Linked DNA regions of Homo sapiens. The protein of the gene in region 2 purifies or fractionates together with the protein of the main gene of each other region. This does not show direct contact. Each region holds a gene or a part of one and is shown on either strand. Other genes may lie near its edges.

Region 1 (7,864 bases), on a different chromosome or scaffold from region 2:
TATGTTTGTTGACAATGCTTATTTATTTATTTTATTTATTTTAAGACAGAGTCTCACTCTGTTGGCCAGGCTGGAGTGCAGTGGCATGATCTTGGCTCACTGCAACCTCCGCTTCCCAGACTCAAGGGATTCTCCAGCCTCAGCCTCCTGAGTAGCTGGGACTATAGGTGTGAGCCGCCATACCCGGCTAATTTTTTAAAAAATTTTTTGTAGAAATGGGGTTTCACTACATTGCCTGGCTGGTCTTGAACTCCTGAGCTTAAAGTGATCCTCCCACCTTGGCCTCCCAAAGTATTGGGATTACAGACCTGAGCCACTGCACCTGGCTGAAAATACTTTGAAAAAAAAAAAAAGACTTGCCTTTTCTCATTGAATCATTTTGACTCCTTGTTGAGAATTAATTAACCATATGTATGGGTTTATTTCTGTACTCTCTTCTCTGTTCCATTGATATGTATAGTTTTCTTTATGCCAATACCAAACTGTCTCTTTTTTTAACCATATTATTTATTTATGTATATATGTATTTATTTATTTATTTATTTATTTATTTGAGATGGGGGTCTCACTCTGTTGCTCAGGTTGGAGTACAGTGGCATGATCTCAGCTCACTGCAACCTCTGCCTCCTGGGCTCAAGTGATCCTCCCGCCTCAGCCCCCCAAGTAGCTAGTGGGAGCCATCATGCCCGGCTAATTTTTAAATATTTTTTGTAGAAATAGGGTTTCACTGTGTTGCCCAGGCTGGTCTTGAACTCCTGAGGTCAGGTGATCCACCTGCTGCGGCCTCCCAAAGTGCTAGGATTACACATGTGAGCTGCTGTGTGTACCTGGCCTACTCTTTTTTTTTTGAAACGAGGTCTCACTTTGTCACCCAGGCTGGAGTGCAGTGGCACGATCTCAGCTCACTGCAGCCTTGTCCTCCCGGGTTCAAGTGATCCTCCTTCCACAGCCCCTCAAGTAGCTGGGACTACAGGCTTGCACCACCATGCCCAACTTTGCACTAGTCAGTGTGACAAGGTGAGAAAAAGAAAAAAGAAAACTATCTTTTTTCACAGATGGCATGATTGTCTATGCAGAAAATCCCAAGAGATCTAGACAAACTACAAGGTTTAGTAAGTGAAGGTCACAAGATGAGAAGTCAATATACAAAATAAACTGTATATTACACATCACTTCTGTGGTATTCTGGCCAAAGTGTGCAACCTAAATTAATCACAAGGAAACATCAGATACTTTGTACAATAAGTGATATCTGACAAAAATCACTGACCTCTACTCTTCAAAAACATCAAAGGCACAAACCCAAAGTCACAGGAGCCTTCCTTCCTTCCATTCTCCCTCCCCTCCTTCCCTCCCTCCTTCCTTTTTTTTTTTTTTTTTTTTTTTTTTTGAGATGGAATTTTGCTCCTGTTGCCCAGGCTGGAGTGCAGTGGTGCAATCTCGGTTCACTGCAACCTCCGCCTCCCAGGTACAAACGATTCTCCATCTTAGCCTCCCAAGTAGCTCGGATTACAGGCCTGTGCCACCATGCATGGCTATTTTTTTTGTATTTAGTAGGACAGGGTTTTCCCATGTTAGTCACCAGATGATAAATGCAGCTTCCCTGTCAGCTCCAAATCAGGCCTTTTATAAACAAGTATAGTCAAGGTCAGGAAGAAAACTTCCCTTCTGTATAATTGTCTTTCTTGTTTCCTTTGCATAATCAGCTGTGCACAAAGAGAGCTATAGTTATGTTCTGTTTTTCTCAGCAAAAGGCTTTATTGTCCAATTTTATAATTTCACAGCATGTCAGTTAGAAAAGAGACTAAGTCAGTAACAAAATATACCCAACCAAAAGTGGCTGCATTCATCTTTTTTTTTTTTTTTTTTTTTTTTGAGACGGAGTCTCGCTCTATTGCCAGGCTGGAGTGCAGTGGCGCAATCTTGGCTCACTGCAACCTCCGCCTCCTGGGTTCAAGTGATTCTCCTGCCTCAGCCTCCCGAGTAGCTGGGACTACAGGCACGCGCCACCATGCCCAGCTAATTTTTTTGTATTTTTAGTAGAGATGGGGTTTCACTATGTTGGCCAGGATGGTCTCGATCTCCTGACCTCGTGATTTGCCTGCTTTGGCCTCCCAAAGTGCTGGGATTACAGGTGTGAGCCACTGTGCCCAGTCTTTTTGTTTCGTTTTTTGTTTTTTGGCAGAGTCTTGCTCCGTCACCCAGGCTGGAATGCAGTGGCACAATCTCGGCTCACCATCACCTCCAACTCCTGGGTTCAAGCGATTCTTGTGCCTCAGCCTCTCGAGTAGCTGGGATTATAGGTGCCTACCACCATGTCCAGCTAATTTTTGTATTTTTAGTAAAGACGGTGTTTCACCATGTTGGCTAGGCTGGTCTTGAACTCCTGGCCTCTTGTCCACCAGGCTTAAGTGCAATGGTGCGATCTCAGCTCACTGCAACCTCCGCCTCCTGGGTTCAAGCAATTCTCGTGCCTCAGCCTCCCGAGTAGCTGGGACAACAGGCGTCTGCCACCATGCCTGGCTTAAATTTTGTATTTTTAGTAGAGATGGGGTTTTACCATGTTGGCCAGGCTGGTATTGAACTCCTAACCTCAAATGATCCGCCTGCCTTGGCCTCCCAAAGTGCTGGGATTACAGGCGTGAGCCACCGCGCCTGGCCTCAGCTTGGGTTTTTCAATGCAGATTGCTAACATGAATTGCTACTCTCAATTCCTTGAGAGAACAGACTTGTGAGGAGTTCTCCCGAGAAGAATTTTCACCTCTTCTTTGGTGTCCCCCCAAGCTAAGGCCAAGACAGACAGGCCTCCCAGGGACTCTTTCCACAGGCTTATTTCCCCTTCATGTAACTAGTGTGGGCGTTGCCTTTGGGGAGTCCTCAGTTCTATGCAGTGTGGTGAGGATCTCTGAGATGCCACTCTCCCTTGCTTGGAGCCTAGGTTTTCTCTCTTGTTCTCTTTCACCACCACGTGCATAACCCTTAAAGATCAAGTTCTAGCTGGGTGTGGTGGCTTACACTTGTACTTCTATAGCTTTGGGAGGCTGAGGTGAGAGGATCATTTGAGGCCAGGAGTTCAGGACCAGCCTGGGCAACATAGCAAGACCATGCCTCTACAAAAAATAAAAAATTAGCCAGGTGTGGTGTCGTGCATCTCTAGACCCAGCTACTCAGAGGCCAAGGTGGGAGAATCACTTGAGACCCAGAGGTCGAGGCTGCAGTGAGCTATGATCGCACCACTGTGCTCCAGCCTGGGTGACAGAGAAAGACCCTGTCTCTTAAAAAAATAATAATAATAAATAAAATCAAGTTATTTGCTATCTGGGATCAGCACCATGACAAACTACCAACATGAGTGCTGCCGGGTCAGTCAGGGTCCTTGCCCGGAGATTAAAACCACACCAGTTATTTTAACAGATAATTTGATAGAAAGAACCAGTAACTAGGTGTTACTAGAAGACTAAGATATGAGGGAGAAGCAACCGCAGGGAGTAGCTACCACTCCCAGGGTTGGGGGAACAAAAGAAAGGAGCAGGAATTATTGAAACGTAGATGTTTGGAAACTGGGAGGTGGGGCTCCAGGAGCTGAAATTCAGATCGTTTGAGGAGGGCTTCCTCCCCCACCGGCTGCTGAGAGGGGCTGAATGAGGCTGTTTCTGGAGGTATTGGGACACTGCAAACTGGATTCATCTGCTGCTGCAGGCAGGAACCACTGCAGCAGCAGAAGCTTAACTGGGGGTGATGCTCACAGGATCTGCAATGCACGAGAAGCTGGTCCTTCCTCCCTCCTGCAGCCTTGCAAACTCTCTCTCTTGCCCCCCCTATTGGCAGAGCCTGGTCACGATCAGCTAGGGAAGCAGAAAGGTGGTTTGCCAAGTGCGGGCCCAGATCACAGAGATGAGTTGTAGAGGGTAGGTTTGAGCTGAGAAACAATCACTTAATACTTAGTGCAGCTCGCCTGACTCTCTGGATTCTGTTTTCTCATTTCCAGCCTCTAGTAATTCCCCTTGCCTTTCCGCTGACTCACCTGTGCATTTCCAAAAGGTGTTTGAATATTGTGCCAGTTTACTGAATATTCTCTGCCGGGAAAGTTCCTTAGGACATGTAGCCCGCTGTATTGCCAGATATGGAAGACTCCATGGGAGAATTTAGATAAGGGTCGCTCACATCTGGAGGATAAAGAGATCCCTCTGGGGCCTGTGTCAGGGCAGGACTGACTCAAGGCCTAGAAACAAAGGGTCTGGAGACATCTAGGCCCAAGCTACATTCTAGTGACTCCCAGTCCCCTGTGTGGGCCCTGTGCCCTCTTCCCCAGCCCCTAGAAGCTCTCATCTAAGCCAACCTGCCCTGGTTCTCATGCACTGTGGCTTCTCCCACCCAGGTCCTTCTGGTCACCTCATCTTTCATGTCCCCTTCCGAGAGCCGCAGTGGCTCAAACCCCAACCGCGTTCGCATGTTTGGGCCTGACAAGCTGGTCCGGGCAGCCGCCGAGAAGCGCTGGGACCGGGTCAAAATTGTTTGCAGCCAGCCCTACAGCAAGGTACCTAGGGTGGGAGCCAGGGTGCAGAGTCCTTGGTCCTGGGCAAGGAGGGAAATAAGGGCCAATATTGAGTCCCATAGGGCTGGGAGGAGTAGACAGCTGGTGTCCCATGGGATTATGGGGAGGCTGGGTCCCTGCGTTCCCTGAAATGGGTTTGGGATCTTTCCTGTAATGAGAAGTTTCATCTCCCGGAGGAATCTAGGAAGGGTGAACTGCAGCATCTCAGAGGGGAATCGGAGGAGGGGAACTGACTTGTTAGAGAGGTGGCCTAGTAGAGTGGGCCTAGTAGTTAACATCAGGAGATCTGGCGTCTGATTACTGAGTTCACGTCCTGGCTATACCACTTTTTAGCTGTGTGATCTTGGGCAAGTGACTTACGCTCTCTGGGCCTCCATTGCCTGATCCTTACAGGGTTGCTGTAGGTTAAGGGATGCTAAAAGCTGTGGTAACAGTGAGACTGGAGTATGTGATGATGCCACACACTAAAGGTGTGCTTCTTGCCCAGGTAACTGTCCTGGGGAGTGTTTAGCCTGTCAGCTGGCTTCTCCTTATGAGGTCGTGCAGGGACCCAGACTTCTCCTATTTTCTGGCTCTGCATCCAGCTGGCAGAGGAGAGAGCCTGGAACACTTCTGTGTTCTGGAAGTGGCACGCAGCACTCCCTCCCATTCCACAGGCAGGAGTTTGTGCATAGGGCAGTGAATTCGCTGGGACACCTAGTAGACTCTGCCAATTGCCCAAAGAGCTAATGCGTGAAAAGGGCTTGGAGCCAGACTCAGAGTTAGGGCTCAGTCATAACAGCTTAATCCTATAATTGTCATCACCATCGCCAGGGCCCCTCCTTCAACATGGGTGTTCATGAGAGGGAAGGAGCCAGGAAGAGGTTTCCCTGAGTGAAAAGGGTCTTGGGCCCTGGCCTCTGTCCTTGGGCCAGACTCCCTGACTCCCACCCCTCCTTTCCCAGGACTCCCCCTTTGGCTTGAGTTTTGTACGGTTTCATAGCCCCCCAGACAAAGATGAGGCAGAGGCCCCGTCCCAGGTAAGCTGTACCTGTCACTCCCCATGGCCTTCTCCCTGCCTCTCCACCCCCACCTGCCAGCAGCCCACCTATAATACTGACCTTGCGGGACCTTAGAAGGTGACAGTGACCAAGCTTGGCCAGTTCCGTGTGAAGGAGGAGGATGAGAGCGCCAACTCTCTGAGGCCGGGGGCTCTCTTCTTCAGCCGGATCAACAAGACATCCCCAGGTGAGCTCGGACAACGTGGGTCCTGAGTGAGTAGGGTTGAGACCTAGACTCGTGGGTCTGAGGGTAGAGGGGGCTGGGGCTCAGATTCCTGGGTCTGAGGGAGGAGGGTAGTGGAGTCCTGGACTCCTGGGTCTCAGGGTGGAGGAAGGTGGGCCTGGCCTCTTGTGTCCTGAGGGTTGAGAGGTCTGGAGGCTGGGACTCCTGGATCACTGGTGGGTTTTGGCAACAATATTCTGTGTCCCATAGATAGGAGTGAAAGGGTCTTGGGGCTCAGCCCTCTCATCCTGGATCCACTTTCTCCCTTCATAGTCACAGCCAGCGACCCAGCAGGACCTAGCTATGCAGCTGCTACCCTCCAGGCTTCTAGTGCTGCCTCCTCAGCCTCTCCAGTCTCCAGGGCCATAGGCAGCACCTCCAAGGTGAAATCATCAGACTTTGGTGGGGTGGAGGAGGAGAGAAGCTGGAGGCCTCAATCCATCCCCATCCCCTCAGCCCCAGGAGTCTCCCAAAGGGAAGAGGAAGTTGGATTTGAACCAAGAAGAAAAGAAGACCCCCAGCAAACCACCAGCCCAGCTGTCGCCATCTGTTCCCAAGAGACCTAAATGTGAGCTAACTAGATCCCTTGTTTCCACAGGGGCCTGTGCTCCTGTGTCCTAGGGGAAGCGGGGCTGGAGCCTGCTGTCCTGAATCTGAGGGAGGAAGGGCTGGGGGCCTGGACCCCTGGGTCTGAGGGAGGAGGGGCTGGGGGCCTGGATTCCTGAATCCGAGGGAGGAGGGGCTGAGGGCCTAAACCCCTGGGTCTGAGGGAGGAGGGGCTGGGAGCCTGGACCCCTGGGTCTGAGAGAGGAGGGGTTGGGGGCCTGGATCCCTGGGTCTGAGGGAGGAGGGGCTGGGGGCCTGGACTCCTGGGCCTGAGGGAGGAGGGGCTGGGGGCCTGGACTCCTGGGTCTGAGGGAGGAGGGGCTGGGGGCCTGGACCCCTGGGTCTGAGGGGGGAGGGGCTGGGGCCTGGATTGCTGGGTCTGAGGGAGGAGGGTCTGGGGCCTGGACTGCTGGGTCTGAGGGAGGAGGGGCTGGGGGTTGACCCCCAGTGGTGCTAACCTAATCTACTCTTTGTCTTCTCCAGTGCCAGCTCCAACTCGTACCCCAGCCACAGCCCCAGTCCCTGCCCGAGCACAGGGGGCAGTGACAGGCAAACCCCGAGGAGAAGGCACCGAGCCCAGACGACCCCGAGCTGGCCCAGAGGAGCTGGGGAAGATCCTTCAGGGTGTGGTAGTGGTGCTGAGTGGCTTCCAGAACCCCTTCCGCTCCGAGCTGCGAGATAAGGCCCTAGAGCTTGGGGCCAAGTATCGGCCAGACTGGACCCGGGACAGCACGCACCTCATGTAGGCTTGCGCCCCCCTCCCTGCGCCGCTGCAGTTTCTCCCCCAGCTCCCTGTGTCTCCTCCACCTTGTGCTTTCTCTGTGTCCACTATGCTGCATGCTTTCTCTCTCTCTCACTTGCTTTCTTTCTCACTGCATTCTGTAGCCTTTGTCTTCTCTCTGATTTTTGCATCTCTCCCTTGGTCTCCAACCTCTTTTTGTTTCTCCCACCTCAATCTCATGATCTGTCTGTCTGTCTGTCTCTCTCTCTCTCTGTCTGTCTCCCCTGTCTCGTTCCCCTTTGCCCCTCAGATCACACCTAACTGGCATCTTCACTTCTGCCCCCCACCAGCTGTGCCTTTGCCAACACCCCCAAGTACAGCCAGGTCCTAGGCCTGGGAGGCCGCATCGTGCGTAAGGAGTGGGTGCTGGACTGTCACCGCATGCGTCGGCGGCTGCCCTCCCAGAGGTAAGGCCTCACACGCCAACCCTGCTCCTTATCCTGTGCTGGGCAATGCCAGGAATCTGGAGGGGAGTCAGACTGGGGCCTGCCAGCGGAGAACACAGGTGGTCCCAGCCCAGAGCCAGCAGACTACTGAGAGGAGCGGGGCAGGGGCTGGGGTACTCCAGATGAGGGAAGGAGGACCTGCCTGGGAGGTCACAGAGGGCTCTGTGAAGCCTGCTTATCAGAAAAGGCTGGAGGAGCAGTTTGTGCAAAAAC
Region 2 (6,761 bases):
AGATTGTTCTTAATGGTGGCCAGTAGTCATGTGACCGTTGAGCATTTGAAATGTGGCTAGTGCTACTGAAGAATGGAATTGTAAATTGCTTTTAATCTAAATTTTGCCTGTGATATTATTGGCTGTGGGTTTGCCAAAATTTGTTTTTTTAAAGAGGAAAAGATAACGGACTGTTGGCTGCTTTATTGGACAGCACAGCTAGCATATAGATGCAGATAGGTAGTATAACTTGTTTGTAGTTTAATATAAATGTTGTATTTTGTAATTAGGCCAAATTTGAGTTTCATCATGGTGACTATGAAAAACAGTTTCTGCATGTACTGAGCCGCAAGGACAAGACTGGAATCGTTGTCAACAATCCTAACCAGTCAGTGTTTCTCTTCATTGACAGACAGCACTTGCAGGTAAGCAGCTTTTTTGAAAACCACTTACAGGCTCATTCAAAAACTTATTGGTTAGTAAACGTTTTATATACAAGTTACTTAATTGTTGTGTCCCCCAAACACTGCATTATTTTTGAAGTTATTTAAAAAGCAAAAAATAGGCTGGGCATGGTGGCTCATGCCTGTAATCCCAGCACTTTGGAAAGCCGAGGCGGGCATATTGCTTGAGCTCAGGAATTCCAGACCAGCCTGGGCAACATGACGAAACCCCATCTCTACAGAAAATATAAAAACTAGCCAGGCATGGTGGCGTGTGCCTGTAGTCCCAGCTACTGGGGAGGCTGAAGGGGGAGGATTGCTTGAGCTTAGGAGGCTACAGTGAGATCTTGTCACTGCACTCCAGCTTGAATGACAGAACGAGACCCTGTCTCAAAAAATAAAATGAATTTTTAAAAAAGTATTTCCCAGGCCTCACTGTAGAACAATGGTTCCCAAATTTTGCTGCATGTTACAGCAACCTGGCAAGCCTTTTTTTTTTTTTTAAACGGGAAAAAACCCACCTCCTTCGAAGCTTTTAAAAGTCATGATTCTAGTGAACAGTAGTGAGAACTATTGCCCTAAAGCGTGTCTACCAGATGTGTGGGCAATGGATGAACATCACTTGAGAACTTGTTAAAAATATAGACTCTCAGGCTCTACTAATCAGAGTCTGCACTTTAAACAGAACCCTCAGGTGATTTGAAACACACTTTGTTTCCAGAAGCACTGACCTGGACGTTTTTTTTTTTCTTGAGAGGGAGTCTCTGTCGCCCAGGCTGGAGTGCCGTGGCGCAATCTCAGTTCGCTGCAAGCTCCACCTTCCGGGTTCACGCCATTCTCCTGCCTCAGCCTCCCGAGTAGCTGGGACTACAGGTGCCCGCCACCACGCCCAGCTAATTTTTTTTTTTTTTTGTATTTTAGTAGAGACAGGGTTTCACCATGTTAGCCAGGATGGTCTCAATCTCCTGACCTCATGATCTGCCTGCCTTGGCCTACCAAAGTGCTGGGATTACAGGCGTGAGCCACCGCAACCGGCTGACTTTTTAAATCTAAAAGGATGAGGGACATATATTTAAAAGATCCACATTTATTTCAAATAAGCACTTCCATTTGGGCACAGTGTCTCACACTTGTAATCCTAGCATTTTGGGAAGCCGATGGGGGAGGATTGCTTGAGTCCAAGACCAGCCTGGGCAACAGAGTGAGACGACATCTCTACAAAAAATCAAAGAAATTAGCCGGACATTGTGGCGTGTTCCTGTGGTCCTAGCTACTCTGGAGGCTGAGGCAGGGGAGAATCACTTGAGCCCAGGAGTTTAGAGTTGCAGTGAGCCATGGCACCAACACACTCCTGCCTGAGTAATGCAGCGAGACCCCATCTCAAAAAAAAAAAAAACACCGCCAACAACAAATAACCACTTCCCAGTTAAGCAGCAATCCAAGTATTGCAATTTAGTTTTTAGATGCAGCCACTTGCTGGCTGTATGATCTTGGACAGGTAACTGCTGTGAGCATGTTGCTTCTGTGAAATTGAACAAATGATAATCCTAAGGTTGTTAAATTTAACGTAAGGTTGTTACATTTAAAATTAACTAATACAAGTAAAGTATATTACATATGTATAGGTTTATTTACATTTGTAGGCTACTTCAGACATCTTCAAAGTCAGAGTCCTTATTTTGCCTTTTAGAGGTGCTAGATAGTGAAGAAAAGATGAACTTTGTAATTAAGTTGGATGTTCAAATGGTAACTACTTTTTAAAAATAAGGGTTTTGATTTAACTGGTAATACTTTGGCTTTTTTCTAGTCCCTTACCCCAGGATATGCTTAAATCTTTTATTTATTTTTTGAGACAAGGTCTCAACTCTGTCACCACGCTGGAGTACACTGGCATATGGATCATGGCTCACCGCAGCCTTGACCTCCTGGGCGCAGGTTATCCACCTCAGCTTCCCGAGTGGCTGGACTACAGGCGTGTGCCACCACATCCAGCTAATTTTTATATTTTTTGTAGAGATGGGTTTTCGTCATGTTGCCCAGAATGGTCTTGAACTCTTGGGCTCAAGCAATCCTCCTGACTCAGCCTCCCAAAGTGCTGGGATTACAGGTCTGAGCCACCACACCCAGCCTTAAATTTTTACCTATTCCTTCATCCTCTCACTAGCTTCTATTCTTACCACATCTGCTTTATCTTCCTCTATATAAAAATGACTTCAAACTTCTCAAAATCTGTCCCCATGAAATGCCTTTAGCTTTAATTTCTTCTAGCAAGTAGTCTCTGGTTTACTTCCCTAACTTTTTATCTTCTAATTCTGCATAAATTTTTCCTTTATCTTATATGGCAAGATTTTGTCTGTCTAGAATATGGATAGGGACTACAATTTGTCCCTTACTCTGTATGTTAAGATGTTTAATAAATTGTGGGAAATGGACTTCATGTGACAGTTACGCTAAAGTCTTATTTTTAAAAAATATTAAAATGTTTTCCCCTTCCAGACTCCAAAAAACAAAGCTACAATCTTCAAGTTATGCAGCATCTGCCTCTACCTGCCACAGGAACAGCTCACCCACTGGGCAGTTGGCACCATAGAGGATCACCTCCGTCCTTATATGCCAGAGTAGAGTACTGACCAGCAAAATGGAGAAGATCAGAGAATGCAGCAGCAGTTTTTTTTCTTGTTTTCTTACCACTTTATTCTTTCAGAGTTTAAAGAAAATGGACTCATGCACAGAACACTATGCATTTTGAAACTTGTTCATCCTGGATTTTTTTAAATCATTTTTATCTCAGAACTTAAACAAAAATTAGATGTCGTGCACGGACTGTGTGAAAGAAGATGCTTTGCATATTTGCTGCACTGCATCAGTATCTTACTAAAAATGTGAAATGAAAGGACTATTGTACACTGAAATGCTTAAATGTATCTGAAAGCACAAGGTGATACTCATTTTTATGGTCTTCCCATTTGTGCTGGTTTTTGCCTCTTTGACATCTGTCATCAGTATTTAGAGGGTGAGAAGTGAATGTAACAGGTATAAATAACATTTTTAAAAACAATAACTTTGCTATAATCACAGTTGTTCCAGAGCACTGTCAGATACATTCTAATGACCAGAACTGGTTTAAAAAAAGAAAATACAACCATGGGAAAGAAATCTTAAATGAAAAACGCATCTCATTGTAGGCATTTTTGCCTCATATTTTACTGGGCCATGTTTGTTTCCTGGTACTCATGTATTTTTTTTTTCCAGATCTCTTTCCCCAAGTTGCTATTGTAAGAGTATTCTGCTGCGTGTGGATGCAGTTATACACATTAAAGCAGATCTGGAGTCTGAAGTAGCTATAAAGCAGCTATAAAACAGAAATACATGCATAGCTGCAGAAACCATGATAGGTAGAGGACTTTTCTTTTGGTTTTGTTTTGTTTTGTTTTGTTTTGTTTTTGGTTTTACAGAGAAGAGATTTTTATTACAAAGAAAAAAATTCCAGTGAATTGTGCAGAAATGCTGGTTTTTACACCATCCTAAAGAAAAACTTTACAAGGGTGTTTTGGAGTAGAAAAAAGGTTATAAAGTTGGAATCTTAAATTGTAAAATTAACCATTGAGTGTCAAAGTTCTAAAAGCAGAACTCATTTTGTGCAATGAACATAAGGAAAGACTACTGTATAGGTTTTTTTTTTTTTCTCCTTTTAAATGAAGAAAAGCTTTGCTTAAGGGTTGCATACTTTTATTGGAGTAAATCTGAATGATCCTACTCCTTTGGAGTAAAACTAGTGCTTACCAGTTTCCAATTGTATTTAGCTTCTGGTTGGAATTTGAAAAAAAAAGAAAAAAAGAAAAAGAAAACCTAAATAAAATAGGTGAAAGTTCCCTGACTATTCAGGTGAATACACAAAGTTTGAAGTGTTAACTTTTTCTTTCCATTTCACTGATGTTACTGGTCACCTTAGAGAATTATTTCATAGTCTGTGGCTAAATAGTAAATTCAGAAGAAAAATACCTGGCAATTGAGTGTGTAACTTCAACAAGAACAGGAATCAAGAACATACTGTCAGCTTTCAACAGTTAGCAACCTGGCCTTATGCCTTGCTTCATGGGAAAGGGCCATTCTTAAATTTCAAAATGCTTTCATGTGTCCTCTTATTTAAAAATTAGAATCTATTTGAAATAACATTTTGAATGTTTATTATAACCAGGTACTCTTCTAAGCTCTTGTCTTAACCTCTCAACCTTTGGTGGAAATAGATGCAGAGGTTAAGTAACTTGCTCAAGCTCAGATCATAAGTAGTGGAGGATTTAAAACCAGGCTGGCTGGCTCTTAAGGCCTATGCTCTTAATTTACCATGTTGAATTAATTTACCATATTGAATTACACTTATGTTCACCAAGTTAGGCATTTTGGCAGCCATTGTTTACGTTTTTATTTTGGAATAATTTAGAAAAGTTACCAGAGTAATATGAAAGCTGTTGTGTAATCTTTACCCTCATTTTTATTATTTTGCCACATTTTTTTCATTTTCTCTGTACACTTATACCTGTGAGCTATTTGAGTTTGTTGCACACTTTGTGCTTCCTTACCCCTTCCTTAGTACTTCGGCATATGTTCCAAGTACAAGAATATTTCATATAACTAGAGTAAAATTACCAAACTCAGGGAATGTTGATACTCTTTATCATCCATATTCGTTTTGTTGTCCCAGTATCCTTGGTAGCTTGTTTTAGATCCCCCCCTCTAGAGTACAGGATCATTGAATTTAGTTGTTCTCAGTTGTCTTTAATGTGGAACAGTTCCTTAGCCTTTATGTGTTCCATGACCTCTATGTTTTTTGGAGTACAGGGCAATTTTTCTTGTAAATTGTTACTCATTTTGCATTTGAATTGTTTATTCATGCTTAACGCCCTTCTCAAGTATACTCTCCATCTGCTCTTCATTGATGTTACTTTTGAGCGCCTGGTCAAGGTGTCCTGGTTTTGCCCTATGTGTGGTACTTACTACTAGCAATCTCTGGGAAGCAATGTGCAAATACCCTGTTCCTTTATCAGGAGCTCCCTTGGCGATTCTTTCCAGACTAAAACCCAAACCAGTCTTTAACTATGATGGTTACAAAATAGTGATTTTCCAAATCTAATGCTTTGTCCATTTACAGCATTTGTTGTAAGAGAGTGTTCTATCTCTGCCATTTATTATCTACCTAAACACTATGGCCTCATATTTTTTCCCTCCAAATCATAATTTGCATGCCTTTATTATTTTGAGCATCTCCTTTCATGCATAAGATACTGTAACCTTTCTGTCCCAGCCTCAAGCCCTGGAGTCAGCTGTTTCTCCAAGGAGCCCAGCTTCCTTTTAGTGGGAAATACTAGAAGTAAACATCTGGGACTCCTGTATGCTCACTGCTGCTATTGCTACTGTGGAGTCTTCTGCCCTTTCACAGTGGACAGATCAGCAGGCGATCTAATGTAGGGAAAGGATTTGTCTTTAACTGTTAACTTGACTTAAATTTACTTAAAGCTGCATCCTTTTTAGTCTTTAGTCATGAAATGTTCATTAAGATTCCCTGACAGAAATCAAGTAAGAGTCAGCTGGGTGCAGTGGTTCACACCTGTAAGTCCAGTACTTGGGGGGCCAAGGCAGGAGGATTGCTTGAGCCTAGGAGTTTGAGACGAGGCTGGGCAACAGTGAGACCTTGTTTCTACAAAAATAAAATTAGGCGTGGTGGCACACGCCTGTAGTTCCAGCTACTCAGGAGACTGAGGTGGAAGAATGTCTTGAGCCTGGGATTTTGAGGCTATGGGAAGCTGTGATTGTATCACTCCAGCCTGAGTGACAGAAGCTGTCTCAGAGTGCCACAGTCAACTGAACTTGGAGACTTCTGAGAAGTGAACTTGGTCTTTTCAATACTATAGACTTGGAGGTTTGAGATCTGCATGGTTTTATTCTCGGTACAAGAAAAGGGGCTAGTAGCATGCTTTTTTTCTTCCCCCTCTATTGGACCATTTCCTGTAACACTAACATGCTTAGCCTCAAACTTTTCTTGAGGTCTTTTTTAGGCATATGGCTCAATCTATTTTATTTTTCAATATGGGCTGTAGTTCATATATTTTGAAGTTTCATAATCTTAAAAAAAGGAAATGCAAGTGTAGCTTGGCATTTTAGATCTGGGAAGGACCTAAGATTCGCTAAGGATTGGCCATTGCTGTGGTCTCCATGTGTTTCCCCTAAATTTGTATGTTAAAATCCCAACCCCCAAGGTGATATTAGCAGGTGGGGGTCTTTGGGAAGTTATTAGATCACGAGGGCAGAACCCTCAAGATTGGAGTAAGTGCCCTTACAAAA
Region 3 (7,864 bases), on a different chromosome or scaffold from region 2:
CAAGCAGTAATTTATAAAGAAAAGTTTATTTAGCTCACAGTTCTGCAGGCTGAGAAGATTCAGGGTATGTCCTTGGCCTCTGGTGAGGGCTTTTGTGCTGCCTCACAATGTGGTGGAGGAAGTCACCAAAGGACACATACCATGAGGACGCATGCAAGGAGGAGAAAACCTGAGAGGTGTCCTGGCTTAATAAGAACCCGCTCTGGAGGGAATTTGTCCATTCCTATGAGAATTAATCCAGTCTTGTGAGAGCAAGAACTCATTCAGCACCTTGAGAAAAGCACCAAGCAATTCAGGAGGGATCCGCCTCCATACCCAGACACCTCCCACTAGCCCCACCTCCAACAGTGCCACATGGAGATCAAATTTCAACATGAATTTTGTTGGAGACAAACATATAAACCACAGCACTTTAAAAATCAAAACAGTGCGTTGTACCTTGCAGGTGCCTGAGTAACATTAAAAGAATAAAAGTTTGGTAGGAAAGACAGTTGACAGCTTGCAGTTTAACTTCACATTTGGAGTATCTTTATATAAGTCTGAATGAGATCAGCAATCACACAGAATAGTAGATTTCACATCTAAGTTTAATCACTGATCTCAGCACCATTCAACAAATAGTCTTTTAATGCCTACTCTATGCTGGGGCTATACTAGACACTTGAGGCTTGATTTAGGATAACTTTATATATGCCATAATTTTCTAAAATTTTCTAAAGTAAAAATATACAGGGCCCTTTTTTTCTCCTTCACTCTACATTCAAATCTGTGATTCTTGCTAATAACCTGTGTCAGAATTACCTTTTACATCTTAATGTTCTCAGATTAATTTTGCAATAGTTTAGTATTTTTGTTTGGTTTTCTTTATAGGCCCTCTTCGCTCGCTTATTACTTCAAGATCCAGGCAACCACTTAATTAACATGACTTCTTCTACAACGCTAAATCTCTCTGCTGATCGAGATGCAGGAGAGAGGCACATTTTTTGTTACCTTTACTCCTGCTTCCAGAGAGCCAAGGAAGAGGTAAAGGAATAATCCCCATTGAATACTGTATTGTCCTCTTGGGTATGACTTCAGCATGTGGGCCAGAGTTGGATCAGTCTTTATTTCAATTTATATATGTCATAGTATGTCTAGAAGTGAATATCAGGGACACTAAAGCTTTTATATCAATTTATATATGTCATAGTATGTTTAGAACACTGGATATCAGATGCACTAAAGCTTTAGTCTCCTTTCCGTATCTTGGGGTCCACCCTTCTCCCCAGTTAACCAATGCCTCCTATTCTCTCTAAAACCTCTTTAGAAATCACATCCTTAAAAAAATCTCATGAGGCTGGGCACAGTGGCTCACTCCTGTAATCCCAGCACTTTGGGAGGCCGATGCAGGCGGATCACATGAGGCCAGGAGTTCGAGACCAGCCTGGCCAACATGGCAAAACCTTTACTGAAAATACAAAAATTAGCCGGGCATGGTGGCACACATTTATAATCCCAGCTACTCAGGAGGCTGAGGCAGGAGAATCACTTGAACCTGGGAGGTGGAGGTTGCAGTGAGCTGAGATCACACCACTGCACTCCAGCCTGGGTGACAGAGCGAGACTCTGTCTCAAAAATCAGAAAAGGGCTCATGAATTCATTTCCACTGAGATGTAAATATTAGAGTAGGCTAAGCCGGATATTTCCAGGTTTGGAATTTTAAATAGGCAGATAGATGATTCCTTAAGCCAAGGAAGGAATCTCTAATTAATTTTCAAGCATCCACAGGAGACCAGTATGTCTCTTCTATTGTATTCACTATGTCTACTTTCGTTCCAGATTACAGAGTTAGACTATTCCCTCTTTTCTTCATGCTGTTTGCAGATTACCAAAGTTCCAGAGAACCTGCTACCCTTTGCAGTGCAGTGCAGAAACCTCACTGTGTCCAATACCCGAACAGTTCTTCTCACCCCAGAGATCTATGTTGACCAAAACATCCATGAGCAACTGGTAGATTTGATGTTAGAAGCCATCCAGGGAGCCCGTGAGTACATGAACAAGATCTGTAAGCTTCTACATTTTGATTTTCAGATTTAAAATTTCACTAATTGCATTAGAAAGTCTCAGAGCCATTATGGTTCTGGTATAAATTAAGGAGGAGGGCTCACATCTTGATCTTTGAGGTTGAGTACCAATAGAATAAAGCTGGGCATGGTAGCACACCCCTGTAGTCCCATCTACTCTGGAGGCTGAGGCAGAAGGATCCCTTGAGCCCAGGAGTTTGAGGCTGTAGTGTGCTATAATCACACCTGTGAATAGCCACTACACTCCAGGCTGAGCAAAAAAACAAGACCCCCAGCTCTAAAAAAAAAAAAAAAAGAATTATTGAAAGTAAAGAGCTAGTGTGTAAAGGCATATAAAAATTCTTGTGCCCTCCTTTCTCTCTCATTTGTCTTCTGTTAGATTTTGAAGATGTAACTGAGTTTCTGGAAGAGGTCATTGAAGCCTTGATATTGGATGAGGAAGTTAGAACATTTCCAGAAGTCATGATTCCAGTGTTTGATATTTTATTGGGCCGAATAAAAGATCTAGAGCTCTGTCAGATCCTTTTGTATGCATATCTGGATATTCTTCTCTATTTCACTAGGCAAAAAGATATGGCAAAGGTAGGTCTGAAAGATGATATGTATTCAGTTGAGCTAGATGTGTAATACATGATGCTTCCCTATCCTGAAGACACTATAATACTACCTATAAAATAAGAAAAAGATAGCTTGGTTGTTGTATCAACTTAACTGTTTTGAGGCCCTCCCACCCCATCACCTTATCTCACCATGAAGATGAATAAGCAGAACTTGTCTTCTCTTACAGGTTTTTGTAGAATACATTCAGCCCAAGGACCCTACCAATGGGCAAATGTACCAGAAGACCTTGCTGGGAGTAATTCTGAGTATCTCCTGCTTATTAAAGACTCCGGGTGTTGTAGAAAATCATGGCTACTTTTTGAATCCATCTCGTTCCAGCCCCCAGGAGATCAAAGTACAGGAGGCCAACATCCATCAGGTGGAACTGTTTACCAGGGTATCCCAGCCCCCTGATCTTAAAAGAGTTTTCTCAGAAAGCAGATACAGATAAGGCTGCTCAAGCCTCTCTGGGAAAGCAAATTGATCTAGTTGGCTTTTACATCACATAAATAAATTAAAACTGGGCATGGTAGCTCAAGCCTGTAATCCCGGCACTTTGGGAGGCCAAGGTGGGAGGATCGCTTGAGCCCAGGAGTTCAATTTGAAACCAGCCTAGGCAACACAGTGAGACCCCCATGTCTACAAAAAAATACAAAACTTAGGTGGGCATGGTGGCAAGCATCTGTAGTCCCACCTACTCGGGAGGCTGAGGTGGGAGGATCACTTGAGCCTGGGAGGTCAAGACTTCAGTAAGCCATGATTGCATCATCACGCTCCGGCCTGGATGACAGAAGAAGACTCTGTCTCAAAAAAAAAAAATCCCCTCTTTGTAGCATATGCTAAGAACAGCACGTGTGGGGTAAGAATGAGCTGCTGCTACTCATTACCCTTTGCTGTAGCACTGCTACAGCTACTTCTCCCCAACCCTCATTTTTCTCACTGAGCTATAACTTTAGCTCTGAAAATCTTTTGACTGAACTCTAGCTTATAAACCCAGTTTTTCTTCCTTTTCGTGTCTCCACCTATGCCCTCTCTTTGGGCTTCTTCACATAAATTATAGTAGAGGTCTGGCCAACATGAGGCATTGAATGATTGAATTGGGGATAGTTTAAGTCCCCTAATCATTAATCATTACAACTCTCTAAGGCAAGGCATGGCAAACTAGCAGTGGCCAAATCTGGCCTGCCACCTGTTTTTGTAAATAAAGGTTTATTGAACATAGCCATGCGCATTAGTATATGTATTGTTTCTGGTTTGAATTCATACTACAGTGATAGAGTTGAATAATTGCTACAGACACTGTATGGCAAGTAATGCCAGAAATCCTTATTGTCTAGCCCTTTGCAGAAAAAATTTACAGACCTGTGCTCTAATACCGTGTAATGCCATCTGCAGTTGGGCAGCTGATCAGAAAATCTCTTATAAGTGCCCAGAAATATATTTTAAAATCAAATTAGGGGATGAGGCACAGAGAGTGAGGGGAAAGATTAGGATTAGCATATTTTTGGAAACTGCCAGTTGCTAAGGTTTGGGAATAAAAACTATTAGGATTGTGAAACGTTCTGTGGTTGTGTTTTCTGGTTGAACAGTTCATGGCTCAGTTCCACGAAAAGATCTACCAGATGCTGAAGAACTTACTCCAGCTCTCTCCAGAAACCAAACACTGTATCTTGTCCTGGCTTGGAAACTGTTTGCATGCAAATGCAGGCCGCACCAAGATTTGGGCCAATCAGATGCCAGAAATCTTTTTCCAAATGTATGCCTCAGATGCTTTCTTTCTGAATCTGGGTGCTGCTCTCCTGAAGCTATGCCAGCCATTTTGCAAACCCAGATCCTCTCGGCTCCTCACCTTTAATCCCACATACTGTGCCCTCAAGGAGTTGAATGATGAAGAACGAAAAATTAAAAATGTACACATGAGAGGTAGGAGAGAACCAGGCTTCTCAAAACTGTGTGTGTGTGTGTGTGTAACGTGTAAAGCATTCACTCCCTTATCCTTTTTCACAGAGTTCCTTTCTCAAAAAAAGATGAGGCAGAAACGAGCTATTTCGATTTTTTTTTCTTTTTTTTTGAGATGGAGTCTTACTCTGTCACTCAGGCTGTAGTGCAGTGACGCTATCTTGGCTCACCGCAATCTCTGCCTCCCGTGTTCCAGCGATTCTCCTGCCTCAGCCTCCCGAGTAGCTGGGACTACAGGCACGCGCCACCACGCCCAGCTAATTTTGTGTATTTTTAATAGAGACGGAGTTTCACCATGTTGGCCAGGATAGTCTCGATCTCTTGACCTCATGATCCATCCGCCTCAGCCTCTCAAAGTGCTGGGATTACAGGCGTGAGCCACCACGCCCAGCCAGAATTTTTAAAAGACAGATGTTTGAGAGAAAAAAAAAAACACCTGGTAGCTTTTAAATGTTGTACTTTAGTGAGACCTTCTCTCTGGATTTGGCAGCCTTGCATATTCATTCATTCATAGTTTATAAAAATGAATAAAGCAGAGTCCTCATCCTTTTTGAACTCAGGCTCCAGAAGGCAGATATATTAACTGATAATTATAATATGGTATAGGGCTAAGCTATGGGAGCACAGAGGAGGGAGTAAATAATCAATTCTGCAGAAGTTGGAGGTCTTCATAGCTGAGTCTTGAGAGACAAGTTAGGTTTTACCAGGCAAAGAAGCAAGAGGGTCCCTTTATACAGAGAGAAAAGCAAGTGTAAAGGTACAAAGCTATGGAAAATCTTGACTAAGGAATGGTGAGAGGCTCAATGTGGCTAGGGCAAGGGGTAGATGGGGTTGAGTTGGGGAGGAAATGGATCAAGGGAGGAAGATAGGTGGGGCTGGATTGGAGAAAACAGTACAGAGAAATGAAGAGAAAATAAATGACTCACAGTCCTACCATTCAAAGTGAAATCACTCTTAATTTTGGTATATTTCATTCCAGTTTTATAATTCTAATTGTAAACATGATAACTGCTCAAAAGCAAATAATCAAATTCAGAAAAGCACAAAATAAATACAAATGATCTATTGCCTATCACTTGAAACAATCTATAGTAGTATTCCTTTTAATTTTTGGTGATTTCATGAAAAAGATTTAACTGTATTTCTGTAGACGGTGAGAAACCAAAAGATATATTCAGACAAAGAACTAATATGACAAGATATGTTTTTAAGAAGATATCACTGCTAACAGTATGGAAATTGAATGAGTGTAAGAGGAGACTGGAGACCAAGACATTTACCCTCTTTTTTTTTTTTAACTTCTTTGAGGTTTGGACAAAGAAACCTGTTTGATCCCAGCTGTGCAGGAGCCGAAGTTTCCACAGAACTACAACCTTGTAACAGAGAACCTTGCTCTGACAGAGTACACCTTGTACTTGGGATTTCACAGGTAACTCCTCTGATGTCATTAGGAAAAAACAGTTTAGTTGTGTTGATAACTAGAAGGTAGAAATTGAGTCTTTGGCCAGGCACAGTAGCTCACATCTTTAATCTCAGGATTTTGGGAGGCCAAGGCAGAAGGATTGCTTGAGGCCAGAAGTTTAAGACCACCAACCTGGGCAAGAAAGTGAGACCCCCATCTCTACCAAAAAAAAAAAATTAGCCAGGCATGGTGGCATATGCTTGTGGTCTTAGCTGCTTCAGAGGCTGAGGCAGGAGGATTGCTCTAGCCGAAGAGTTGGAGGCCACAGTGAGCTATGATTGTGCAACTGTACTCCATCCTGGGTGACAGAGTGATAACCTGTTTCTTAAAAAAAAAAGAGAGGAAGAGTCTTACAGATATAATCTGAGCTTATTCTAAAGGTTCACATTAGAATCTAATAGAAAAGGGGCATTGTATGAATTTACTTGTGTTTCATGAATCAGCTTTGTCCAGATTCCTTAAATTTGTTTTTAACTTTTATCGTTGTCGTTGTTGTTGAAATGGATTTTCGCTCTTGTCACCTTGGCTGGAGTACAGTGGCACATTCTCTGCTCACTGCAACCTCCGCCTCCTGGGTTCAAGCAATTCTTCTGCCTCATCCTCCCAAGTAGCTGGGATTACAGGCATGCACCACCATGCCCAGCTGATTTTGTATTTTTTTAGTAGAGATGGGGTTTCGCTGTGTTGGCCAGGCTGGTCTCGAACTCCTGACCTCAGGTGATCCACCACCTTGGCCTCCCAAAGTGCTGGGATTACAGGCATGAGCCACTGTGCCTGGCCTGTTTTTTAACTTTTGACCTGTTAAACTTTAAAAATTAAATCACTGTCTTCCTATTGTGATCTGGGAAAGTGGAATTGTTTTCATTTTATATTGCACTTTCTGCTCTTAAATTTTCATTACTGGCCGGGTGTGGTGGCTCATGCCTGTAATCCTTTGCACTTTGGGAGGCCGAGGCAGGCAGATCACTTGAGCCCAGGAGTTTGAGACCAGCCTGGGCAACATGGCAAAACCCCGTCTCTACAAAATATACAAAAATTAGCTGGGCATGGTGGCGTGTGCCTGTAGTGTCAGCTACTCACGAGGCTGAGGTGGGAGGATCTCTTGAGCCTGGGATGTTGAGACTGCAGTGAGCCGAGATTGCGCCACTGCACTCCAGCCTGGGCAACATAGTGAAACCCTGTCTCAAAAAAAAAAAAAAAAATTTCATTACTACTCCTGGTGATAAAAGATGAAGTTCAGCCGGGCGCAGTGGCTCATGCCTATAATCCCAGCACTTTGGGAGGCTGAGGCAGGCAGATCACAAGGTCAGGAGATCAAGACCGTCCTAGCTAACATGGTGAAACCCCGTCTCTACTAAAAATACAAAAAATTAGCCCAGCTTGGTGGTACGCGCCTGTAGTCCCAGCTACTCGGGAGGTTGAAGAAGGAGAATCGCTTGAACCTGGGAGGCGGAGGTTGCAGTGAGCCGAGATGGTGTCACTGCACTCCAGCCTAGGCGACAGGGCGAGAATCTGTCTCAAAAAAAAAAATTAATTAAAAAAAAGAAAAAGACCAAGTTCTACTCTACAGATAGAGACAAAAGTGGCAAATATTAAGGAAATGTTTATAAGGGAGCTAATGAGATCAATAGGACCACAAAAGACATTAGATAAAGAAGATTCTAGAAATGTTAAGATTTTAGAACTAGAATGTATGACTTCCAAAAACAGTTCTGGTTCTGGCTATTCATTATTCTGTAATTTGTTTTCCTCTGATTTAGCTGATTATGACAGGTATAAG
Region 4 (7,864 bases), on a different chromosome or scaffold from region 2:
GCACAGAGACTACTGTTATACAGGATGTATAAAATAAATTATCTAGTGGATGAAGGTGAGATTGGGATTGTGAGAGTACTGGAAACCAAGTGGAAATTCTAAACTAACAGTTCTGTTACTCTGGTAAATATTAAGTATGCAATAGATCTCAGCCCATGAGAAACACAGGATGAAATTGAGGAGAATAAATTTAAAAAGTGGTATACATGTGGAAAAATTGTGCAACAGTTAAATTCTCAGCCGTATATTCCCTCGAAGTCCAGTAGTAATTTAGACCAGGTAATGTGTAAGACCTTCAGGAGTCAGCTGCCACGCCATCTCCTTCAGGAAGCTTCCCAGGCTCCGTAACTCTTCTTGTCTATCTGGAGCATCTTATGTTAAATGTCTCTGATGATGATTCTCTCCATGCTAGATTGTCTAGGTTAAAGAATCATATTTTCTTCTTTGTTACGTTTCTAGCTCCTAATAACAGGGCCTCATGTAGTAGGCACTCATTTAACCGTTTGTCCTACTGACAAGAATTTGTCTCTAGCATAAAATTTGTTTCCGTGGTGGGTAGTTATGCATTTGAACTTTATTTCATTGATTTCTTACAAAAGTGCTTTGAAAGTAGTTTGCCTTTCTTTACTGTTTTACATCATGGGAGTGTTTTGAAGCTACAGGAGGAGCTTAATTTAACACAAGTCTCATAGCTATAATACCAGTGACATAAAACTTTATCATTGATTTTAATATCTAGGACTCACTGTAGTTTGGAATCTGGTAATTGGAAAATTCTGTGAATGTTGTAGAATGCCTTTAACAAAAAAGAGAATGCTTTTTTAATAGTGTGTGTGAATGTATCTTACAAATCATAAAATAGGCAAAAAGTAGAATCATCTATACTCTGCTATTCAGAGGTTATCTCTGCTAACCTACTGCAAAAATTGAACAATATCGTACCTACTGTTTTGTAACCAGCTTCTAAGTCCCTGTGTTTATTTCCAATGAATTGTTATTTTGCGTTTATCCAATGAAATCTAGAGTATCTGTGGTCTTATAATAAATATATACATTTAATTACTTTTATTAATTTTCAGAGTAAATGAATCATCACATTATGATCTAGCCTTTACAGATGTACACTTTAAACCTGGTCAAATTCGAAGGCATTTTATTGAGGTTCCTGAGGGTGCAACATGGGCTGGTAGGTAAAATTAAAATCTGTGTGACCGCTTATCTCTGTTTACGTTCTAATGACTATAGCTGTATGAGGTTCGTTTATCTGTAGCATGTATTTCCCTGGTACTAATATATGTATTTGGGTACCTTAGACTTTCTGTAAAGTTCAAAACGTTTTTAAGATCTAGTACAATTTTGCATTGGCCCATACAGGAAATTAAGCCATCTTAAGATGTTTTTAATATTTAAGGTTTGAGCTTAGTTTAGAATAATGCCTTACCTGGTAATAATTTTTTTTTTTTTTTTTTTTTTTTTTTTGAGACAGAGTCTCACTCTGTCGCCAGGCTGGAGTGCAGTGGCATGATCTCGGCTCACTGCAACCTCCACCTCCCCAGTTCAAACGATTCTCCTTCCTCAGCCTCCCGAGTAGCTTGGACTAGCAGGCGTGTGCTACCACGCCAGGCTATTTTTTGTATTTTTAGTAGACACGAGGTTTCACCATGTTGGCTAGGATGGTCTCGATCTCTTGACCTCGTGATACACTCGCCTCGTCCTCCCAAAGTGCTGGGATTACAGGCATGAGCAACTGTGCCCGGCCTAATTTTTAAAATACTACAAATCAGTTTAAACAATGCAGCTGTTGCTTAAACCTCAAACTGTTAAACTCTCAGAATTTTAGAAATAGAGCTTTAATCTTTGAAGCTCTGTTTATAGAAGATTTTCACTTCAGTGTCTCTGAAATTTTGAGAGTAAATGATTGCCTAACACAAAGCTCTTGAATTAACATGTTATAGTCCTGTGAGAGTGCTCATGTCATTCTTTTTTACAAGAGCTGTGGGTGTACCATATTTTCCTTCACAAGTTGTGTGTCCTAAATTTACAATTTAGCAGTCAGTATAGAAGGGTATGTCAGTTGTCAGAGCTCACTCCCATTGATAGAAGGAAGCAAATACGGGCAGTCAAGAAAGTGTCACCCAATTTAAATTAGTAGCCAGCATTGTTGATACTTCTTGGATTTGGCCCCTCTGCTAAGCACTTTACAGAGATTATCTTGTCTAGTCCCGTCAGAACCCTATAAGGTAGATAGGTGTCATTAGTAAAAATGGCTTGTATTTTACTTAGGAGTGTGTTTTTTGTACTTGTATGAAAGTACAGATATATTTACATCTGAGACTTTATTGAAAATGAAATATTGAAATCACACATGTATGACTTGGTTTGGGAATAACTGGTTGTATTTGGTTCCCCATACCATTTTCTGGTCATCTATCTGTATGCTGTCCATCTGTTTGTCACCTGGTATCACAGGAAATACCAGACTTTTCTTGTTTTTTGTAATTAGGTAAAGGCAAAATAATAGCAAAAGCTGAGAGCTAAAGCAGTGAATTGAACAGCACCCAATATAGCCTGTTAATTTGCACACTGGTTTATAATGGAGCTATTGCAGCAGTGAGAGGCTTCTGAGGATAATCGGGTTGTACTACACTCATTCATTAAGCATATTTTTCTGTACCATCTGTGCCAGGCCCTTTTCAGTGGGCTAAGGTGGTGAGCTACTTAGACAAGGACCCTGCTTCCAGAGGCCTTGAGAGCATCTAGTCCAAGATATTGCAGTTAAGAGAACTGGATTAGAGGGAGGCAGCACAGAGTAGCGGCAAGGCCACGGGCTTTGGAAATTGAGAAGTCTGGGTTTGGATCCACACTCTGCCATACGCTAATGGTTACCTGGGGGCAGGTTTCTAAATTTTCTGGACTTCTGTTTCAACTGTAAATATAGTCGTTAGTCTGTTGTAAGGATTAGGGATTTTATAGTACTTGGTACATAGCTTGTCTTCGTTGGGATTACGCTCACACTTGACAGTACTTCTAGAGGGTGGAGTCAGAGTTGCTGTGTTCAGCATTCCTGGGGTCCCATTCTCATAGGGCCCCTGGGACTTGTAGAGCTCCAGGCTCTGGTAAAATGTGCACTGGTAAATTAAAGAATACAAATCTATGGTTAATTAATACTGAATTGGGTACTTGTTTAGTGATAAATGGCACTGATTTATGATTGGTTTAGGTTGGTATTGAAAATAATTTGTTTTTTTAAATAAAAATTATCAAATGATCTAGAATGCAAGTAGTTAAGAGAATTTAACAGTCTTAGTTTTATTTCAAATAATTAGAAATATTGTCATAACACTAGATTTTGTATTCTTAGCAACTGACTAGGTTCTGAGAGCTCTCTGCACACCTGGTTTTATGAGCCACGGCATTGCGCCTTGCTTCAGTTCCCTTGAATTAGCTTGGGTGTTCTTTAGAAAAGCTGCCAATCTGGCATTGCGGTGATCTTGGCTTACCTCCAGCGCTGGCTCAGAGTAAAGTTAAGCATAAGTAGTCGTGCCAGGCTTTGTAGACGCACACAGTACACAAGTAGACCAAGAAGAGAGATTAGGAAAAGTTATCAATGAGGAATTGAGGCATGATAACAAATAGAGGTTTCCAAAAATATAACCTTCCTTACTTTATCTGGAATTGACTGGTTTTCAGCTAAAACAAGGAGGGATTTTAAAAGGTACCCGATTAATGTAATTGTGTATGCATCTATGGACAGCTTGCTGTTTCCAGGTGTTTGCAGCCTCATGGTGGTGGTTCATTTTAATACCAGTTTCTTTCGTTCCCATAGAAAATCTTCTAGTCTTCTACCTTTATTAATATTTTGTTGATTCTTTGTTTTTATGGAAATATGCAGATTTGAGTGTACATTTTATTTTTGATCCCTATTATGTCCCTACATGGGAATTATCCCTAAGTGGGCATTATTAAAGCCACTTTATGTCAATTTTAGGTCTTATAAGTTTAAAGCTTTGCTTCTTTCTTTCTTATTTTAGAAGTGACAGTGTGTTCGTGTTCTTCTGAGGTGTCAGCAAAGTTTGTTCTACATGCAGTCCAGCTTGTGAAGCAAAGAGCATATCGAAGCCATGAATTCTATAAGTTTTGTTCTCTTCCAGAGAAAGGAACACTGACTGAAGCTTTTCCTGTCCTAGTAAGTTTAATTATAGTTTATAATCCTAACACAATTTATTTGCCTTTTTGGTATGGGCTAAGACTAAGTATTTGCATTTGATTTTATAGTTTGTATTTAGCATGTTGGGATTATATATTTTTTTAATGCCAAAAAAATGAAGTAGAAAAATAGAAAATCTAATCAGGGTACTTGAAATCAAGTTGGAGGTAATTATGGCTGTAATTCTTGAATAGCATAGTCAAAGAAACATACTAGTCTGGTAGATTCTCGTGCCTTGTAGTTAGGACCCTGATTTAGATTATTCTTTGTTGTACTATAGATTAATTTCTTTAAGACCTGTTTGCTTGTCACTTAACTTATTTTACTAATGCTGTGTTGTTAAGCTATGAGGCTAATTTGCATTATAGGAAAACTGCTACTGCTTCATGTCTAAGTTATCTCAGATGATGGCAGACTGCATTCTTATCTGTGGTGTTGGAAATGATGACTAGTCTTTCTTCCATAGAAGGTGAAAGTACTGATGTTCTTCCTTCAATGCGCTCCTTTGTGTTTTCAGTTGGTTCTGGGATTTTCCCAGTATCTCTTGGTTTCTGGTTACTTTCATTTGTGTTCTTCCATGGATCAGTGTTGCTTCATCTTTTTAAACTTTTAAATCACTGATTACTAGAAAACTTACTTTAAAACTCAGTGCTAAGAGCAGGTGTTTTTTTTTCCTTTTCCTTATCTTTATTTTTTAATAGGGAGAAAGATGTAAATGACCATAATGTCATTTTGTTTTGGTTGCCAGGTAGCTGTGAGCCCAAACTCAATTGTGCCTATTGAGTATGCCTTACAAAGTTGAAGTATCTTTATTGTGTCGTTATACTTGATTATTTTTCTTTTGGTCCTAATTTTTTATTTCACTTCGAAATAATAAAATCACATTTGCTTTATTATATGTGCTTTCAGAAGCTGCCTAGGATCTTTTATGACAAGAAGCATAGGGTTATGAGTAAATAACTATGTATATTTAAATACACCATATCTCTGCAAATGATTTGTCTAACTCTTACTTAGCATAGCTGTTAAAATTTTTGAGTTTTCTTGCTACAAACAGGAAAAGTTTGAAAACAGAATTGCTCTGAAACAGCTAGTATTTATATTCTGTAATTTGAGAAAAATAAGAAAAGAGATATATTTTATTTACTTTTATTTGCAGGGTGGAAAAGCAATTGAATTTTGCATTGCTCGTTGGTGGGCAAGTCTCAGTGATGTCAACATTGATTATACCATTTCTTTCCATGGGATAGTGTGTACTGCTCCTCAGTTAAACATTGTAAGTTCCACAACATTTTCATGATTTTTAATGTCAGTTACTTGTGTTACTGGAGAGTAACTTCATTGGTTAGATTTAAACTTTAATGAGGGGAAATTACCTGTGGTTCTGAAGATAGCAGTAGGCTTTGTGTGTGGGTACTTATAAACTTTATATTGGACACATTTATTTTAGGTACAAAATATTGCTTATTTTTAGTAAAGTTTGAGAAAGTAATTTGAGAAATCCTTTGTAGCATGCATCGGAAGGAATCAACCGCTTTGATGTTCAGTCCTCCTTGAAATACGAAGATCTGGCTCCCTGCATAACTTTGAAGAACTGGGTCCAAACACTGCGGTATCATTCAATGTTTTAGGAACTACAGATATTGAATATAGATTGGGGGGATCTCTTACACTCTTAAAAAAGGGCCTTTTTTTTTTTTAATCCACCTGCATGCTAGAGGTGAGAATTTTATCCTTGCCAGCAGATCTCTGCAAGGCAGCCCCAGTATCAGCTTCTAGCTTCACTGTCCCACCTGACCAGCAAAGTCAAGGATGGTGGATAGCCGATCCCAGTCATGACTAGTTAGGATCAGTGGACATTAACCTTTTTATTTCTTGCTGTAAAATAGCAAGTTAACATTCTCTCTGATATTATTTTGTGAATCCTAATGCAGTCATTTTTAGAAACTGCAATACCATTAGAAACTGTTTATTAAATGGTAGAAACTTAAGTACTGTAGCCTGCTGTTTGTGCCTCAGCAGCTCCCCTTACAAAAGCAGGGCACCTTGACCTGTGTTCACATACTCACTGTGTTATAAAGATACCTGGTTTCTTTTGTTTAATCTGACCTTAACTCATCGGCATGAAGCCTAGTCTTAAGTGTATTAAAATAACCAATTAGGGACAATAGTCAGTGACACGGTGATGTCTAAAGATATACTGCTTCCTAGAATTATCAATAAAAATTAAAACATCCAGCTTTTGAAGATATATCCAACTTATATCATCCTGATGTTTTCTTCCTAAATCTAAAAAATTGGAGCTAAATTTAGAGTAGATTATGTTTCACTGACATTTTAAACTATATTTAAAACTTACTCTTCAGTGTCAGTTTTCTCCTTTATAAAATCTGTACATTAGCAACTTCCTTCAGAGGACTACTAAAAATATGAAATAACATTCCCTCGGCCAGGAGGAGGGCTGAGTGTGGCCCCTGCCATCTGGTGAGCAGCAGGGGTCTGGGGAGGTCTGTGCTGCACACAACACAGTACTGTCAACAGTTTGCACAAGGGGTACAAATCAGAACCTGTCTTGCAACACTTTTAGTTGTCACCCTAGTGTTAGGATTTGGTTGTATTGAGAGCTGTTTGTTCACATTTGAAAATGTTTTTGCCATGAAAAGATTGCCTTTGTCATATTTATTGCAAAATCTAAACTGTATGTATTGATATGATTCAATCAAATAATTATGTAAGTTAGTGATTAAAATATTGTAGAGTATACTGAAAAGGATAGCTCTCAGGAAGGTTCATCTGCACTTTTTGCAATATGTTACAGATTTTGTTGCATATGGTTTTATTTGTCTCATTCAATGAACTCTTGAATCAAACCAGTTATGTAGTTTCCTCATTACAGCCCAGTGAGTGCAAAAACAAAACCTTTAGGATCAAGAGATGTTTTGCCAAATAACCGTCAACTTTATGAGATGGTCCTGACATATAACTTTCATCAAGTAAGTGTTTGCCTAGTAAAGTGTACCCTTAGGATGAACTTTTGTGTTTTATTTATGATTCATAGAATCAAAAATGGAAGGACAGTGTATATGGTATATATAAAAAACAGAATCAAGTGATTAACAGTTAATTTGGAATTACTCTTTAGGAAATTATAATTTGTAATTAAATACCATTCAGTTGTAAAGTCACAAAATGTAATTGAGTGGTGACCTAGCCTTAAGCCTTAGTTTATAAAATCACTGATCACTGTCCATTGGTGCCATCTGACCCAGGGGTGATTAGATGGCTCAGAAATACCATCTGCCTTCTGGTGATGGTGCTGGGCCTGATTGCTTTCTGCGAAGAAGGCACTGGAACAGGGAAAGGTCAGAGTAGCTCCCAGGTGGGATGGGTGGCAAAAGTAATGGAGGCCAGTGTAAATGCTGGACCAAAGAATTGTTGTAAGATCAATGAGATTTCAATAAAACTGTTACTGAAACACACATCAGTTTGGTTATAATGTTAGGGAAATGGATTGGTTTCAGTGAATTTTCACATTTCAGTTTTATAAAGTAATTAGAGGTCCTGAAGTATGTATATGTTGCTTTATTAATGAATACACATAGCCAGGTGTGTATTTTTAAAAGTTTGTAAGAGAGCAGTGACTTTTATAAGTGCTAA

The links.
Region 1: the proteins of C6orf62 (region 2) and XRCC1 purify together in Homo sapiens (affinity purification with mass spectrometry; one large-scale study listed by BioGRID and IntAct). This does not show direct contact.
Region 3: the proteins of C6orf62 (region 2) and UBE4A purify together in Homo sapiens (affinity purification with mass spectrometry; one large-scale study listed by BioGRID and IntAct). This does not show direct contact.
Region 4: the proteins of C6orf62 (region 2) and TPP2 purify together in Homo sapiens (affinity purification with mass spectrometry; one large-scale study listed by BioGRID and IntAct). This does not show direct contact.

Annotation. Positions count from the first base shown.
Region 1 is NC_000019.10:43,551,319-43,559,182, reverse strand, and holds part of XRCC1 (DNA repair protein XRCC1), read left to right. Parts: intron 1-4,378; coding exon 4,379-4,537; intron 4,538-5,499; coding exon 5,500-5,574; intron 5,575-5,670; coding exon 5,671-5,782; intron 5,783-6,091; coding exon 6,092-6,201; intron 6,202-6,274; coding exon 6,275-6,386; intron 6,387-6,907; coding exon 6,908-7,166; intron 7,167-7,495; coding exon 7,496-7,612; intron 7,613-7,864. UniProt on the Homo sapiens protein: Scaffold protein involved in DNA single-strand break repair by mediating the assembly of DNA break repair protein complexes. Negatively regulates ADP-ribosyltransferase activity of PARP1 during base-excision repair in order to prevent excessive PARP1 activity.
Region 2 is NC_000006.12:24,702,420-24,709,180, reverse strand, and holds the end of C6orf62 (uncharacterized protein C6orf62), read left to right. Parts: intron 1-269; coding exon 270-404; intron 405-2,918; coding exon 2,919-3,044; 3' UTR 3,045-4,320; downstream 4,321-6,761.
Region 3 is NC_000011.10:118,370,644-118,378,507, forward strand, and holds part of UBE4A (ubiquitin conjugation factor E4 A), read left to right. Parts: intron 1-870; coding exon 871-1,023; intron 1,024-1,863; coding exon 1,864-2,023; coding exon of another isoform or gene 2,024-2,044; intron 2,045-2,442; coding exon 2,443-2,645; intron 2,646-2,850; coding exon 2,851-3,042; intron 3,043-4,252; coding exon 4,253-4,586; intron 4,587-5,930; coding exon 5,931-6,051; intron 6,052-7,864.
Region 4 is NC_000013.11:102,639,191-102,647,054, forward strand, and holds part of TPP2 (tripeptidyl-peptidase 2), read left to right. Parts: intron 1-1,079; coding exon 1,080-1,186; intron 1,187-4,031; coding exon 4,032-4,186; intron 4,187-5,366; coding exon 5,367-5,483; intron 5,484-5,718; coding exon 5,719-5,819; intron 5,820-7,103; coding exon 7,104-7,200; intron 7,201-7,864. UniProt on the Homo sapiens protein: Cytosolic tripeptidyl-peptidase that releases N-terminal tripeptides from polypeptides and is a component of the proteolytic cascade acting downstream of the 26S proteasome in the ubiquitin-proteasome pathway.